Regions from separate parts of the Homo sapiens genome. Here region 2 is linked to region 1. A link means that fine-mapping ties the variant in region 1 to the expression of a gene that starts in the linked region. Tissue or cell type: ovary. Region 1 holds a variant in brackets; the other region holds the start of a gene. All regions are shown on one strand. Distances are between the middles of the regions.

Evidence for each region. PIP is the estimated chance that this variant, and not a neighbour inherited with it, causes the effect.
Region 2: TMEM80 starts here. The variant in region 1 is fine-mapped to the expression of TMEM80 in ovary (GTEx, PIP 0.91).

What each region holds. Positions count from the first base shown.
Region 1 is chr11:653,208-661,207 of GRCh38, forward strand. It overlaps DEAF1 (DEAF1 transcription factor), which reads right to left. Exons shown (of 12, transcript NM_021008.4): 11 at 755-844. LOC124902603 (a long non-coding RNA gene) reads left to right here and starts at 1,816. Exons shown (of 2, transcript XR_007062543.1): 1 at 1,816-2,360; 2 at 3,767-5,897. The variant G/A (reference allele first, on the strand shown) is at 3,638.
Region 2 is chr11:692,814-700,813 of GRCh38, forward strand. It overlaps TMEM80 (transmembrane protein 80), which reads left to right and starts at 3,003. Exons shown (of 5, transcript NM_001042463.3): 1 at 3,003-3,033; 2 at 6,056-6,075; 3 at 7,329-7,422; 4 at 7,802-7,894. The coding sequence starts at 3,015. It overlaps DEAF1 (DEAF1 transcription factor), which reads right to left and starts at 2,409. Exons shown (of 12, transcript NM_021008.4): 1 at 1,946-2,409. The coding sequence starts at 2,234. RefSeq lists silencers at 1,781-2,030, 2,051-2,170, 2,181-2,480, 2,981-3,400 and enhancers at 1,846-2,385, 2,386-2,927, 2,928-3,467, 4,008-4,547.

The DNA of each region.
Region 1 (8,000 bases):
GTGGAGCGGAGGGCTGAATAATAGAGGAACTGTGGACGCTGTCTCTCGCGTGGCTCTGCAGGGGTGTGGAGGGCTCAATAATAGAGGAACTGTGGACAGTCTCTCTCTCGCGTGGCTCTGCAGGGGTGTGGAGGGCTCAATAATAGAGGAACTGTGGACGCTCTCTCTCGCGTGGCTCTGCAGGGGTGTGGAGGGCTCAATAATAGAGGAACTGTGGACAGTCTCTCTCGCGTGGCTCTGCAGGGGTGTGGAGGGCTCAATAATAGAAGAACTGTGGACAGTCTCTCTCGCGTGGCTCTGCAGGGGTGTGGAGGGCTCAATAATAGAGGAACTGTGGACAGTCTCTCTTGCGTGGCTCTGCAGGGGTGTGGAGGGCTGAATAATAGAGGAACTGTGGACAGTCTCTCTCACGTGGCTCTGCAGGGGTGTGGAGGGCTCAATAATGGAACTGTGGACAGTCTCTCTTGCGTGGCTGTGCAGGGGTGTGGAGGGCTGGGAAGCACTGACCAGCAGCCCTCAGGGTTTCCGGCCACCAACTGTGGGGCCTCACATGAGAGCACTACCTGGCCATGTCACATGTGAGCCTTCTGCAGGGTCTTCACGGAGCCAGGCAGGAGCCCCGGATTCCCAGAGGGAGGGACAGGGAGGGGAGTCAGGTGTGGCACCAGGAGCACAAGGGGAGGGAGGGCCACCCAGGGGTCTTCGTAGCGAGGGAGGAGGCGGGGGCACTGAGCCTGGTGTAGGTGAGACCTACCTTGCGTTGGCAGAAGGTGGAGCAGTAGTTGACCTTGTGGCAGCCGGTGCACTCGCTCATAGCCTCCCGGCCGCAGTTAACGCAGGACTGCTGCAAGAAGGACACAACAGGCCAGTCAGTGACGTGGCCGTGGAGAGCCCCTGAGACACCGGGGACAGAGGCAGGTGCAGGCAGGAGGCCCCAAGTTCCCCCCATTGGACCCCCTTTTTTTTTTTTTTTTTTTTTGAGATGGAGTCTCACTCTGTCGCCCAGGCTGGAGTGCCGTGGTGCGATCTCAGCTCACTGCAACTTCCGCCTCCTGGGTTCAAGCAATTCTCCTGTCTCAGCCTCCTGAGTCTGGGATGATAGGTGCCTGACACCACGCCCAGCTAATTTGTGTATTTTTAGTAGAGACAGGGTTTCACCATGTTGGTCAGGCTGGTCTTGAACCTCTGACCTCGTGATCCACCTGCCTCGGCCTCCCAAAGTGCTGGGATTACAGGCGTGAGCCACTGCGCCCAGCTCCCATTGGACTCTTGACTGCGCCTCTGCCCCAGTGCTGCTCAGAACGTTCTTGTCACCTCCAGAATCAGCTCTTTCCTGGCCTCAGTGCAGTTTGCCCCCTACATTCATTCACTGGAAGACCAGTATGGGCCGGGAGCAGCGGCTCATACCTGTAATCCCAGGACTTTGGGCAGCCGAGGCGGGTGGATCACCTGAGGTCAGGAGTTCAGCACAGGCAACGTTGCGAAACCCAGTCTCTACTAAAAATACAAAAATTAGCTGGGTGTGGTGGTGGCCACCTGTAATCCCAGCTACCTGGGAGGCTGAGGTGGGAGAATAGCTTGCACCCAGGAGGCGGAGGTTGCAGTGAACCGAGATTGCACTACTGCACTCCAGCCTGGGTGACAGAGCGAGACTCCCATCTCAAAAAAAAAGGGAAATCAGGGCCGGATGCAGTGGCTCATGCCTGTAATCCCAGCACTTTAGGAGGCTGAGGTGGGCGGATCACGAAGTTAGGAGATCGAGACCATCCTGGCTAACACGGTGAAACCCCGAGATTGTACCATTGCACTCCAGCCTGGGCGACAGAGCAAGACTGTCTCCAAAACAAACAAACAAACAAACAAACAAAAACAAAGGGAAATCAGCATGGAAATCTTTCTCCAAACTCCAAGGAGCTTCACTCCAGCCAGGCCAGCACAGAAAATCAAACTCAGGAGTCCACCGCTCCCAACACTCCTGAGCAGGGCTGTGGGCATCAGCCTGGGCGCACCGTGGCAGGCATGTGTCCCAAACTGCTGCGGCGGTGCCCCAGCCAACACCCCCACGGCCCCACCTGAGCTGGTTTCTGTGGTGGATTGAAAAGATGCCACCAGAGGTTTGTGTACTTTCTCCTGGAATTACATTATTGGAGCTTTTCTTTTTAATCAGCGCATAGGTCAACATGCTGTCAATGATTAATGTTTGCGGCATGACTAAGGTGCTTGACAGTTGTGAGCTCCGCCGTCAATGCTCTCTGAGACGGAGAAGACCACTGGGCCTAGGAGAGGCCTTGGCGCCGCGACCTGCACGCCCGCTATGCGCCCAGATCATCCGCAGCTGCGGGAGGGGCCGTGGCCAGTGGGTGAGTGGCAGCGTCTGTGAGCAGCACAGAGCAGCACAGGAAACGACTCCAGCGCGGCCCCACGGCCCCTGCACGCGTGCAGACCTGCTCCGAGGTTCTGTTCTGATGCTTGCCTCCCTCCTTCGCAAACGTGATCTTTAACATTTTTCCAGTTGTAAGACATTCAGAGCTCCGACATTCAGTCACTCACTTCAGAAAACAGGAGCATTAGGAGGAATTTTGGTGCTAATTTAGGTTGCCCCCTGCCTCTACTTTATTTATTTATTATTATTATTATTTTTTTGAGATGGAGTCTCACTCTGTCGCCCAGGCTGGAGTGTAGTGGCGCAATCTCGGCTCACTGCAACCTCCACCTCCTGGGTTTAAGTGATTCTTGTGCCTCAGCCTCCCCACAGCTGGGACTACAGGCACGGACCACCACGCCTGGCTAATTTTTTTGTATTTTTAGTACAGATGGGGTTTCACCATATTGGTCAGGCTGGTCTCGAGCTCCTGACCTCAAATGATCCACCTGAGTCGGCCCCCCAAAGTGCTGGGATTACAGGCATGAGCCACCGCGCCTGGCCTGTGCCTCTACTTTAAATGACAAACTTTTTTTTTTTTTTTGAGATGGAGTCTCGCTCTGTCGCCCAGCCTGGAGTGCAGTGGCACGATCTCAGCTCATTGCAACCACCACCTTCCAGATTCGAGCAATGCTTCCACCTTAGCCTCTCAAGTAGCTGGGATTATAGGCGCTTGCCACCATGCCTGGCTAATTTTTGTATTTTTAGTAGAGACGGGGTTTTGCCCTGTTGGCCAGGCTGGTCTCGGAAACTCCTGACCTCAGGTGATCCGCCTGCCTTGGCCTCCCAAAATGCTGGGATTACAGGCATGAGCCACCAAGCCCAGCCGACAAAATATTTCTTAAAAAGTCTGTAACCACAGAGAAGCTTCTCGAAGGAGAACACAGCTTCTGCAGGCTTTATTAACATTCTGGGTTGCTCTGTGGATGGCCGGGCCAGGCAGGACCCTGGTCCAGCCCCTCACAGACAGAGGTCAGGTGGGGTGGGAGGCTGGCGGGAGCGTGGTCACTGTCCCGGGGAGCGGCCCCCACGCTGAGAAGGGCACGGGTCTCCGTGTCCAGCAGTCCCTGTGCACCACACACCAGGACGTCCTGTACTTGCCCCCCAGCATAGTTCCTGGAGGACAGCACCCCTGAACTGAACGGGAAGCCTGTCCTGTTGCCTCGCAGGCGCCTCTTCAGCCTCAGCTGGGACTTTCAACCACTTGGGCCTTTC[G/A]CGGTATGCCCTTTGCAAAACTTTTTTTTTTTTTTAAACTGAAAAATAACGTTCTAGGAAGGTTAGAAGGAGCTTTGGGGTCTGAATTAGAGTCAGAGGCAGTAGCATGAACTCATGTTCTCTTCACAGATACAGAAGTGGCTGCGGAGATGTTCATACACACAGGTGACACCCTCATCCCTGCTCTGCAGCTGAACAGGTGACACCCTCGTCCCTGCTCTGCAGCTGAGGGCCTCCACGTGACAACATCCCAGCAGCACCGGACCCACCTGGCACCCACCTGGCACCCAGGCCTCACTCTCTAAGACTTCCCAATAAAAGGACCTGGGGCTCCCTGCCTGGCACCCAGGCCTCACTCTCTTAAGACTTGCCAATAAAAGGACCCGGGGCTCCTTGGAGAAGGGGCTGATTCCCGGGCCAGGGCAGGGAATGCAAGAGGAGGCTGGAGCACCCTGCAGTGCCAGGAAGTCAGGACGTACCCCAAAATGAAAAGTCTGTTGAAAGGGGTGCATCAGGGGACCCAGGAGCCGACGGCAGGAGCTCCCTAGGGCCAAGGACAGATGGTGTGCTTCACAAGAAAGTAGTGTTGCCTTCTAGCTCAGAGTTTAAAACACATATAAAATGAGCCCATCCGGATACAAACAAATGATCAAATAAATAAATACAAGTCCAAGCTATTCCAGATCCTCCCGTCTAGGAGAAGCCCCCCCACGGCCGTGGACTTGCTGCCTGACTAAATGTGCAAAGGGAGAAGCAGTCCTGTCACCAAGGAGACACCTACAGACACCTGACTCTGGTGAGGAAGGTCAGAGCTGTCTGTAATGTCACTTGGATGTCAGGGACGCCACAGTGGGGTGAGACAGGCGGCAGCACCCCTCCCTGAAACCTGTCGTCCACCCCCACGAGAAAGCACAAGACAAGCCTGGATCGGGGCACCTGGACAAACTGCCTGGCCAGGCCCTCTCAGAACTGCAGGGCATGGAAGACAAGGAAAGACTGAGAGACCGTCACAGGCCTGAGGGTGCTGGGCAAATGGTGCACGGGAGGCTGTCTCCCACAGGTGGCAGCGGGGACAAGGTCCTAGAGCAGAAACAGGACATTGATAGTGAAATTCAAAGTCCGGAGTTCACAGGGACACCCAGCGACGGTTTCTCAGCTACAACAGCCATGCCCTGTGGGCTTTGAAGTTACAGAGGGGAGGCTGCGGAGTGGCAGAAGGGACCCTCTGCGCTCACTTTGCAACTTTTCTGTAAACCTAAAATTATCCCGAAATACGTTTATTTTTTAAAATAACCATTCATTAGCCGGGCACGGTGGCTCACGCCTGTAATCCCAGCACTTTGGGAGGCTGAGGCAGGCGGATCACGAGGTCAGGAGATCGAGACCATCCTGGCTAACACGGTGAAACCCTGTCTCTACTAAAAATACAAAAAAATTAGCCAGGCGTGTTGGCGGGTGCCTGTACTCCCGGCTACTCGCGAGGCTAAGGCAGGAGAATGGCATGAACCCAGGAGGTGGAGCTTGCAGTGAGCCGAGAACGCGCCACTGCACTCCAGCCTGGGTGACAGAGCTAGACTCTGTCTCAAAAACAAAAACAAAAAACCATTCATTACTGCGGAAGAGGTGTGTGTGCGTTGCAGAAGGTTAGGACAAGACACCGCGTTTCCGCAGCCAAGGACATCGACAAGTCCCATTCTGCGCTTTCAGGAAACTGTCAGGAAATCACAGGACTGCGGATGGCACAAAGGGCAGAAGTGCCCAGGCCTGCCCAGGCGCCCCAAGAAGCTCATGCTGCCAAGCAGCTGGCATTGCCATTAGCATTCAGAGTTCTCTGGGCCGCAGGCGGGCAGAGGAGGAGACTGCAGCAGAGCACCCTGCGGGGAGTCCCGCCCAAGCAGCGGGTCCAGCCCCTCAGCAGAGACTGCGAAGGGGTTTCCTGGCCTGCCTTCCCTGCTGCAGGGGCCCCCCATCTGCACATCACACAACAGGAACACACCTACTTTTGGCAATGCAATAGCTGGTGTACTCTGGTCCAGGTGGAAAAAAGCCTTGTGAATCACATATGCTGGTTTCATTATAATTGATTTTTAAATTAGACAAATTACAGATAACAAAGCCACTCCTTCAGAAACAGCCAACCAAGAGTAAGACCATAAGATCACATATAAAATGCCTATTAATTTCTAACTATCAAAGAATAAGTTAATAATGTATTCATTATTCTTTCTGCAAATAAAACTAAGTCTAACTTGAAAACCTAGATACTGGCCAGGCATGGTGGCTACACCTGTAATCCCAGCACTTTGGGAGGCCGAGGCGGGAGCATCGCTTGAGCCCAAGAGTTTAAGGCCAGCCTAGGTGACATGGCAAAACCCTGTCTCTACAAAAAAAAAAAAAAAAAAAATTAGCTGGGCATGGTGGCATGCACCTCTTAGCTACCAGAGAGGCTGAGGTGGGAGGATTGCTTGAGCCTGGGAGGTGGAGGTTGCAGTGAGCTGAGGTCACACCAGTGCACTCCAGCCTGGGTGACAGAGGGAGAACATGTCTCAAATGATAAAAAATAATAATAAAAAAGAAAACCTAGACACACCCCGGATGGAGATGAGGCTGTGGTTGGAGGCAGCCTGGTGGATCGTGTATCTTACAAGGAGTGCTTTCTTTATGACTTATTCTTAGAGGATGTAATGCTGCCAGGAGCCTCGATGGAGCCAACTCCGTGTCACCATCACTCCTGAACCAAATGGGGCCACAGGCCCACTGTGCACAGGGGCCTCCGCCTGCTTCAGGGGCCAGGTGATTGGAGGGCGAGTTGGCCTCGGGGTTCAGAGCCGCTGGGAGAACCCTGAGTAGCCTTTGCAGATCCGCTCCTGGGTCTAGTTCCAGAGGCTCCTTTCCCGGCACTGCAGTGAGTTCAGGTGAAGCAGCCGCCTAATTCCACAGGCCCGGCCTCCTCTGGAGAGACAGAGCGGGAGAGGGGAGAGTGAGCAGGAAGCCAGCGGTAGATGGGGCTTCAGGAGAACCTGCTGGACCCTGAAGCCGTGAACCGGAAGCTGGGGAGTCCCAGCGTCACCCTGCATGGAGGCTGAAATACAAAGTCCCCAACACAGGGCAGGTGGGGCCAGGTGGGGCTTGGGCAGGCAGGGCCCAAGGGGCTGCTGCTGTGCACCCTTGAGGTCTGCCCCCGGGACCACTGTGGCTTCACCAATGCCCACCATGGGGCAGAGGGCTCCCCATGACTGTGTCCCGTGAGGGCGCAGCAGCTCAGCTTAAAAGTAAGAGAAATGCAAATTAGACTGGATTACTCTCCCTCGAGGAAGCAACGGAAATAAGAGAAAACCCTCAAAACATCAAGCAGGTTTATCTGAAAGCTGAGCCGCACACGTAAAGAGATCAAAGGATTAGTCTAATAGCATCTTTTTGAGCTGGGACAGAGTTTGCCGTTTCTATGAAATGACCATGATACAGATCTCTGAGGAAGCATCAGACAAATTCAGATTTACAACCTGTCCCCGCCCCTGCCCCAGAAAGCCCACACACCTCATCCCAGGTCAGGCAGGGTCCCCCTGAAGTGGGACTGCAAAGCCACCTCTGTGCTTTTCCCAGGCTGCCCCGCCGGCGCCGCCTCACCCCGTCCCGGGCACCTGGCCGCCCCTCCCACCACAACACCCCTGGCTCCCTCGGGGGACTCCAAGCCTGCATTTCCGGGGGCTTCCACGCTGCTGGGGGGTGCTCTGAAGAGTTCCCTGGGGACACGGGGATGGCGGGCTGCTCCCGAGTATCCCAAAGACGCCAGCAACCCTCGCTCACTGGGCCACGGCAGGACGTTGGTCCAGTCCGGCTCTGGAATCTGATGTTTGATGCGGAACAGGTGACTGAGCTGTCTTGGGTCTGGCCGGGCCTATTTGGCTCACGTGAGTGTTAGGCTGACACTGGAGAACAAGGCAGGCAAAAGCCTTCATTTACAGAAACCCCATACCTGGACTTCAAGGAAATGTCACTGAAACACAAGCCCCTCTCGGCGCTGCTTGAGGCACCCGCGGCCTTACGGTGTTGGGAGAGGCCCCCGCAGGGAAGCGGCTGCTCTGGGGTCTGTCTCCACCCTTCCAGATCCCCAGGCACGGAGGCACCATCCAGGCACAGCACAGACCTATTTCTGAGCTTCCTAGGAGTCAAGGACATTGTTACTGTCCAACTTACGTATTCTTCTCCCTTTCATACCCTTCTGTGCTGTACTATATTTAACACTTTAAAAGGAAGTTAGGGAGACTGGAGAAAGCCTGAGAGCGAGCTACTAGAAACGGGGACAGGCTAGAGGAATGGGGTTTGCGCTCAGGGCAGCATGGCCAACAACAAGCCGGGGCCA
Region 2 (8,000 bases), 40 kb after region 1:
TTGCACTCCAGCCTGGGCAACAAGAGCGAAACTCCGTCTCAAAAAAAAAAAAAGGCATGTTTGCTGTCTGTCTCCACGACCAGACCACACCAGGTGCACGGTTCCCTCATCCTCGCCTCTCAGCACCACAAGCCCCGGCATGCGGCGCGCGGCCACAGTGAGTGCTCAACGCCAGGCCCATGGCAGCCCTGGGAGCAGCCGCCCAAAGCCTCCTCAGGCGGCAGCGTGTCCTGCTGAGTTACTTAAACCTGGAAACCACTTGACGTCAGCTGTTCGTAATTTTTAAAAAGTATTAAAGTGCTTTTACCACATCAAAACACAACTACCATATTTTTCAGAAGAAAACACACGTCAGCACATTTCTCTGACATCATGATGAACAGCATCATTTTTCTTTTATGCATTCAGAAAAATACGTGCAAAAATGACAAAAACCTGAAATCAACCTCATGGCTCCAAATCCCAACGTCAAACCAGAGTTTAGCGACGGACGCCAACCCCTGAGAGTCACAAAGCCTTCCCTCACTTTTTTTTCTTAACCAACCAAACAAGCAGCAGTGACCCCTTTGCCTTCGAGGGCCACTCAGCTGACCAAGGGCAGCCCAGACGCTGCTGGCCCCCACCCAGCCCCCAGGCCGAACAAGCACCCAGAGCACACGCAATGCCCTGACATACCCAGCACACCAGGACTGGGATCCAGTTCCTCAACCCGCAAAGCTCCGTAGGGGAAAAGTGCCTCACAACGCAACAAGAAGCTCCTCCCAAGGGTCTCAACACTGAGCTGTGAGTCCCTGGGGGACACTCGGGAACTCCAATGGGGAAGAATACAGTGCGTTAGGAAGCCAGTGGGTGGGGAAGTCTATGCCCCACGGACACAAGGGCGGGACACAGGAGGTGGGTGGACGGCACCAGCCCCGTAGGGCATCTGTGAGCTCTGCCACGGGCTCCCAGTGTTTTGGAGCCTGAGAAGGAGACTGACCTGTGTGGCAAGAAACTATAAGCAGCTTATATAAAAATGTGGACTGGAAAGCCACAGCAGCCTCCCCAAAGGAAGCCCGACAGGAAGCGGGGCAGGAGGAGCAGGTCCTTAGGGAAAAAGGCAAGAGGAAGAGGGAGGACTGGGAGGGGAGCCTGCACAGGTGGCTCCGCAGCCCCCCTGGGCCACCACACAGCCACGCTGACCTCTGGCATCATGGCCTCCAGCAGGCTGCCCACCCCTGGCTCCCCAGCGCTCAGGTCATGCCTGAACTGGCCCTCAGGAAGTGGGGGGTTCCTGGTGACCACAGGTGCCCACCCACCCCAGGGCTTCTCCAGGACAGGTGGGGGGAGCCAGGATGGACGAAGGCAGGGCAGGGGCAGAGCTGCACAGGGGGGACCAGTAGGAGGCGGGGCTGCCACAAAGAAAAGGGGGGCAGGGGGCAGGTGTGTGCAGGGCAGGGCCAGGTCAGGTGAGGCTAGGCAGGTCACCAGGGGCAGGTGTGCGGGGCAGGTGTTTGGGGTAGGTGGGGCAGGCTGGTCACCTGGGGCAGGTATGTGGGGCAGGTGTGCGGGGCAGGTAGGGCAGGCCGATCACGTGGGGCAGGTGGGGAAGGCTGGAAACGTCGAGCAGGTGTGCGAGGCAGGTATTTGTGGCAGGTGGGGCAGGCTGGTCACCTGGAGCAGGTACGTGGGGAAAGTGTGAGGGGCGGGTGGGGCAGGTGTGAGAGGCAGATGTGAGGGGTGAGCTAGTCACGTGGGGCAGGTGTGCAGGGCGGGTGGGGCGGGCGGGTCACGTGGAGCAGGTGTGAGGGGCAGGTGTGCAGGGCGGGTGGAGCGGGCTGGTCACGTGGAGCAGGTGTGAGGGACAGGTGTGGCGGGCTGGTCACCTGGGACAGTTGTGCGGGGCAGGCGCGCGGGGTAGGCGCGCGGGAACCGGACGAGGCGAGAGGCCGGCGGGCGCACTTGCCTGCGAAGGCTGCGGCAGCGGCGGCCTCGTCGGGGCCGGGCAGGGCCTCGGCGCCCATGTCCATGTGCCCGGGCTCCGCCGCCATCACCGCCACTGCCGTGACCCGCGGCGTCTCCCGCTCCGCCTCCGAGTCTGCGTCCTCCTCCGAGTCCTCGTCCCTGCTCAGCACCGGCTCCTCCGCCTCGCCTCCTGCCGCGGCCGCGGCCGCCGCCGCCACAGCGGCCGCGGCCGCCACCGCCGCCGCCTCAGCCAGGCCCAGCTGCTTTGCCGCCGAGTCCGAGTCCTCCATCCGGACTCCGCCGAGCCTTCCCGAAGGCGCCGTCCGGGACCGCCCGAAGCGCCGGTCGCGGAGCCCGAAGCGGGGCCCGAAGAGGACGCCCGAGCTGGGCCGAGGCCGCCCGAAGCCGCCGCCCGAATAGGGACCGAAAAGGCAGCCAGCCGCCGAGCAGAGCCGAGCCGAGTCCGCCCGCGGAGCGGAGCCGAGGCGAACAGAGGCTGCCCGAGTAGGAGCCGAACCTGCACGAAGCCGCCGAGCCGAGACCGAGTCCTGAACCGAGGAGGGTCGAAGTTCCCCGAAGTGGGAAGCCGAATCAGTCCGAATAGGTCCGAGTCCTCACGAGGGCTTCCGAGAGACTCGGCCCCTGCTCTCCTCACTGTCCTGACAGGCTGAGGCGGCTGTCGTCCCCGGCCGACAGGGCTGGACGGCTCTAGGCAGATTCTCGCCGGCGGCCGGCGCAATTCTGCCTCTCAGAGAGAGCTTAGTGCCGCGGGTTTCGCCCGTTCCCGCCGCCGGCGGAAGCCGAGTCAGCCCGAGGCCGAGCCGAGACGAGCCGAATGTCCCCGAGGCCGAATGCTCCCGAACGTCGGTTCTCCACCTCTTCCCTTCCGAAAGTGCCCGAGCGGTGCCGGACGGACTAATCGGGCCTCGGCCGTGGCTCGGACGTCCGCTCCCGAAACGCGGCGCGGTCGGGCCCCTTCGTCAGGAGACGCGAAAATGGCCGAAGGAGCGCGAGCGCGCGGGCCGAGAGGCTGCCGGGATCGCGACGGACCGGCGGGCGGGGCGGGTAAGATGGCGGCCCCGCGGCGAGGTGAGCTCGGGCGGGGTGGGGGCTTCCGGGCTTGCAGCGGCGGGCGCGGCGTTTCCCTGTGGTGACAATCCGGTTTCCGCTTTCGGTGCGCTCACGGGGCCGTGCCACCGTCTCTACGTGAGCGAGACAGCTCCGTCACCCCATCGAGAAGCGCGGCCTGGCCTGGCCTGGGTGGCGGGCGTCCTGCACCCCGAAGAGCTCCCCCGCGCGCGGGCGCCTGGCCCCGGGCAGGGTGGGTGCGGAGCGGCTCTGGGGGCCCCAGTCCCCGGCAGCTCTTGTCCCGCGCGTGGTTTTTGTGAAGACACGTGGGCGGGATGGGCGCAGGGTTTCGGTAGCCTTGGAACTCTCGCCAAAGAAAATCGCGGGCGCCGGTGCCTCAGCCGTCCTGCCTGAGAGACTCGCCTCCGAGAGGAGGAAGGGACAGACCAAAGCAGTAAATCGGCCATCCTGCAGAGGAGCCGCCTTCTGCTGTCTGTGGGTACAGCCAGAACTCCCATACGCGGGCGCTGAAGTGCCAAACCTTCGTGCGTGTTCTCTAGTAATTAGGTGCATTGTTTTGAAGGAATAAAGAATGGCTACTCCATAGGCAGGACAGCCTCTAGTAACCAGGTTTGTTTTGTGTATTTTCATTTGGTTAAAAATTAAGTTTAGGTTGGGCGCAGTGGCTCAGGCCTGTAAGCCTGACAGTTTGGGAAGCCGAGGCTGCAGGATCATTTGAGGCCAGCCTGGGCAACATAGCAAGACCCCCTCTATAAAAAAAAAACTGTAAACATCAGCCAGGCGGTGGCGCACCCCTGTGGGCCAAGCTATTCTGGAGGCTGAGGCTGGCGGATCACTTGAGCCCAGGAGGTCGAGGTTGCAGTGAGCCGTGATGGCGCCACTGCACTCCAGCCTGGGCGACAGAGCGAGACCCCCTTCTACAAAAAAAAAATTAAAAATTACCCCGGGGAAGGCCAGGCGCAGTAGCTCACGCCTGTAATCCCAGCACTTTGGGAGGCCAAAGCGGGCGGATCACCTGAGGTCGAGGGTTCAAGACCAGCCTGACCAACATGGAGAAACCCCGTCTCTACTAAAAATACAAAATTAGCCTGGCGTGATGGTGCATGCCTGTAATCCCAGCTACTTGAGAGTCTGAGGCAGGAGAATTGCTCGAACCCGGTGGTGGTGGTGGGGGGGGTGGGGTGCGGAGGTTGCAGTTGGCCAAGATCGCACCATTGCACTGCAGCCTGGGCAACAAGAGCGAAATTCTGTCTCAAAAAAAAAAAAAATTACCTCAGGGAGCCTGTGGTCCCAGCTACGTGGGAGGCTGAGGCTGGCGGATCACTGGAGCCCAGGAGGTTGAGACTGCAGTGAGCTGTGATCAGGCCACTGCACTCCAGCCTGGGCAACAGAGCAAAACCCTGTCTCTAAAAAAACTAAGTGTATACCAAAACAAGATTTCTTAACACATCTTGTCCATTACATCAGGGAAAACACTTGTTCTCTTTCACTTCCATGTTTAACTTCTGCCTGACACAGCTATTCGTAGCCACATTGTGATTATAGTAAGTCACTGACAAAAAATGTTGTCCTGAAAGCCAAGGCTACGTTCGGTCAGAATGAGCTCCTGCAGGTCTGGAATTGTTAGAACAGCGTATCTGGTTATAGCCGCCCTTCATATTAATTATTAAAATGTTACATCACTTAAGGCTTTTATACAGTTTTTCCCCCAAGCCCCATAACTTCAATCTATAACAGTGAGCAACTAGCAGACACATTGGAAGTGTTTAAGAAGCCAGCCTTTAAGAAAAGGAACAGAAGGGACAAAAACCCCAATTAATGCGAAATCATCACAGATAATGACAGGTATTTAGGTGGCCTGGTTTAGCTAAGGCCTGGAAAAGAACAGATCGGGTTTAAAGAGTGGCCTGCCGGGAACGCGATGCGGCGTGGTCTGCCGTGCACTTGGCTTCCTGCTTCCATCCTGTGGTGCCTCTTCCAGGAGCCCAGTTCTGAGTCTCTGATGCCGATGTCCTGTATTTACTGGCTTAAAACTCTTGCCTGTGTGAGATTCCACAAACTCTGGCACAGAAGGCCCCAGATCTGCCCAAGAAGCTGTGGGATCAGCCACAAAATCTCACCAACGCCAGGTTTCTGTCCTGCCCTCCCTGGCGCTGAAGGGGAAATAGAACAGAGGCTGTGTTCAGGTTGCTGTCCTGCCTGCCGCCCAGCGGTGCAGCTTGAGCCTCCTTTTATGAGAGGTTTCCACCCAATTCTAGATGTGTATTGAGGTATCTACACATGGAGGGACGTGCACATATCACACGTGCAACTGGCCTGAGCCCTTTTCAGACAATTAGTCCGCTCCAGGTCAGCGTGGATCCAGGGTGAGTCAGAGGCGTCTTCAGATGCAAAACCTCAGAATCAAAAAGGAGGAAAGAGACTCCACTCACTCCTCGGGCTTCCTGTCATCTCTCAGGTGGGGGTGGGAGAAGGCCCAAGAGGTTGCATGATAAAAAGACTGGACAGCTGCATTGCTGGTTTGGAAAATCCTTATTTTTGGAGGGATATTTGGGGATAAAATTTCAGAGGAAAGCAAATGTCTCATCAATCATGAAAAAAGATTTGTTACAACCTAAGTCAGAAAAGGTTTTCATCTAGTCATATATGTGTGGCAAATACGGAGAAGCCACAGACGGTGAGCCACAGACAATGAGAGCAGCTGTTGGGGTGGGCTCCAGGGTGCTGCTTTCCCTGAGGGCCAGCTGGGTCTGGCCCAGGTTCACTTCCCACCCCGGTGCCCCCGGTACTCGCTGTCTCCAGCCTCAGGTTCTGAAAGGCAGAGACTCCTAGCCTCATTGAAGGATGGTTAGAGAGGCACGGGAGCTATCTAGTGGCAGGCCCACGGTATATGTTTGCTGCTTTCTACAAATACGAGATCAAAGGAAAATAAAGCAGGGGTGGTTCCTGTCAGTGTGGAGCGAGACCCGGGAAAGCATCCTGGTGGCTGTCAGGCCTTGCTCACGGCCCCTTTCTCTTTCAGGGAGAGGATCCTCCACAGTGGTATCCTGCTGCGTGCCCCTCCAGGACAGCACCCAGAGGCCCGAATTGCTGCTGCACAGAGAGCACTCGGCCTCACCCCACGTTTTCCCTAAGTTCTGTCTAGTAATTCCACTTTGGAGAGGGGGGTGTTCCTTGACAGATTTAGAGAGTTGATGTAACTTCCTCGGATCAGTTCTGCTGGCTCCATCCCCTACCTGCTCAGCCCTGCACAAAGTGGCTAAGCACGCCACACTGCCGGCTCCCAAGGCGATGGCCACCTGCCTCTGTCTCGGCCGCTAGTGGCAGGAAGATGGAAATCCCTCACTTTGTCCCTAGATTCATTTTATTTTATTTTTGTTTGTTTATGTTTTTTTAAGGACAGAGCCTTCCTCTCACCCAGGCTGGAGTGTGGCAATCACAGCTCACTGCAGCCTCAGCCTCCTGAAGCTCTGGCATCAGGCGGGAGCCACTGTGCCTGGCCCCATAGACTCATGTTAGCATAAACAAATAGGAAATGTACACAGCTCAGGAAATGGCTACTAGATACTTAAGTCCCCCAAACAGAAATATATTTCCTCTGAAGAAACTGAAAAAAGTGGCCGGGCGCAGTGGCTCATGCCTGTAATCCCAACACTCTGGGAGGCTGAGGTGGACAGATCACTTGACACCAGGAGTTTCAGACCAGCCTGGCCAACATGGTGAAACCCTGTCCCTACTAAAAATACAAAAAATTAGCTGGGCATGGTTTTGCACGCCTGTAATCCCAGCTACTCAGGAGGCTGAGGCAGAAGAATCACTTGAACCCAGGAGGCGGAGGTTGCAGTGAGCCAAGATTGTGCCACTGCACAGTGTCCAGTCTGGGCAACAGAGCAAGACTCTATCTCAAAAAAAAAAAGAAAATGACAAAGTTATTTTTTCTCTCTTAACTCATAACTGGGGCCAAAGGCAGGGTGACATCACTGGGGATGCCAGTGTGTGGAGGCTGTCCCCTGACCAGTCCTGTCCACAGTCAGGAGGGCAGGGGCTGCAGTGCACAGACCGCATTGTTGTGGCATGGAGGGGGGTCCCACAAAGGCCTTGTCAGCTCATGGGACCACATTGGCAGCCAGCATAGTGACAGAAGCCTCAGATAGGCAGTGAGCCATTGCCAAGACTCCATGGTCCCTTGGTGTCTGTGGCCACCAAACAGATGACAGAACCAGCCCCTCTTGTTCAGCCACCTGGGAGGCTGCTCCCAAGCCTGTTGAGCTTGAGGATCCTTAACCACTCACCAGCTCTCTTCAGTTCCCCTTCAAATGCTGTTTTATCTCAGCGGAACGTACTACGCCCTGTATTTCCTCGCCACGCTCCTGATGATCACGTATAAAAGTAAGTCAGGGACGGGCACAGTGGCTCACGCCTGTAATCCCAACATTTTGGGAGGCTGAGGTGGGCGGATCACTTGAGGTCAGGAGTTTGAGACCAGCCAGGCCAACATGGGGAAACCCCATCTCTACTAAAAACACAAAAAGTAGCCGGGCGTGGTGGTGGGCGCCTGTAGTCCCAGCTACTCGGGAGACTGAGGTGGGAGGATTGCTTGAACCCGGGAGGTGGAGGTTCCAGTGAGCCAAGATTGCGCCACTGAACTCCATCCTGGGTGACAGAGCAAGACCCTGTCTCAAAAAAAAAAAAAAGGAAAAGGCAAGCTGAGGTGGCTGCTGCTGCTGTGCCAGGTTACTTATGTTCCGTCCGCGCCTCTGCTCTTCAGGTCAGGTGTTCAGCTATCCTCACCGCTACCTGGTCCTCGATCTTGCTCTGCTGTTTCTGATGGGGATTCTAGAAGCAGTTCGGTTATACCTGGGTGAGTGGACTGTTAACACCGTGAAGAACCTGTCCTAAGAGTTGCTATCTGTTTCCACAGCCTTTCAAGAGTAATTATTTTATAGTGTGGTTCTCAGAGACATTTT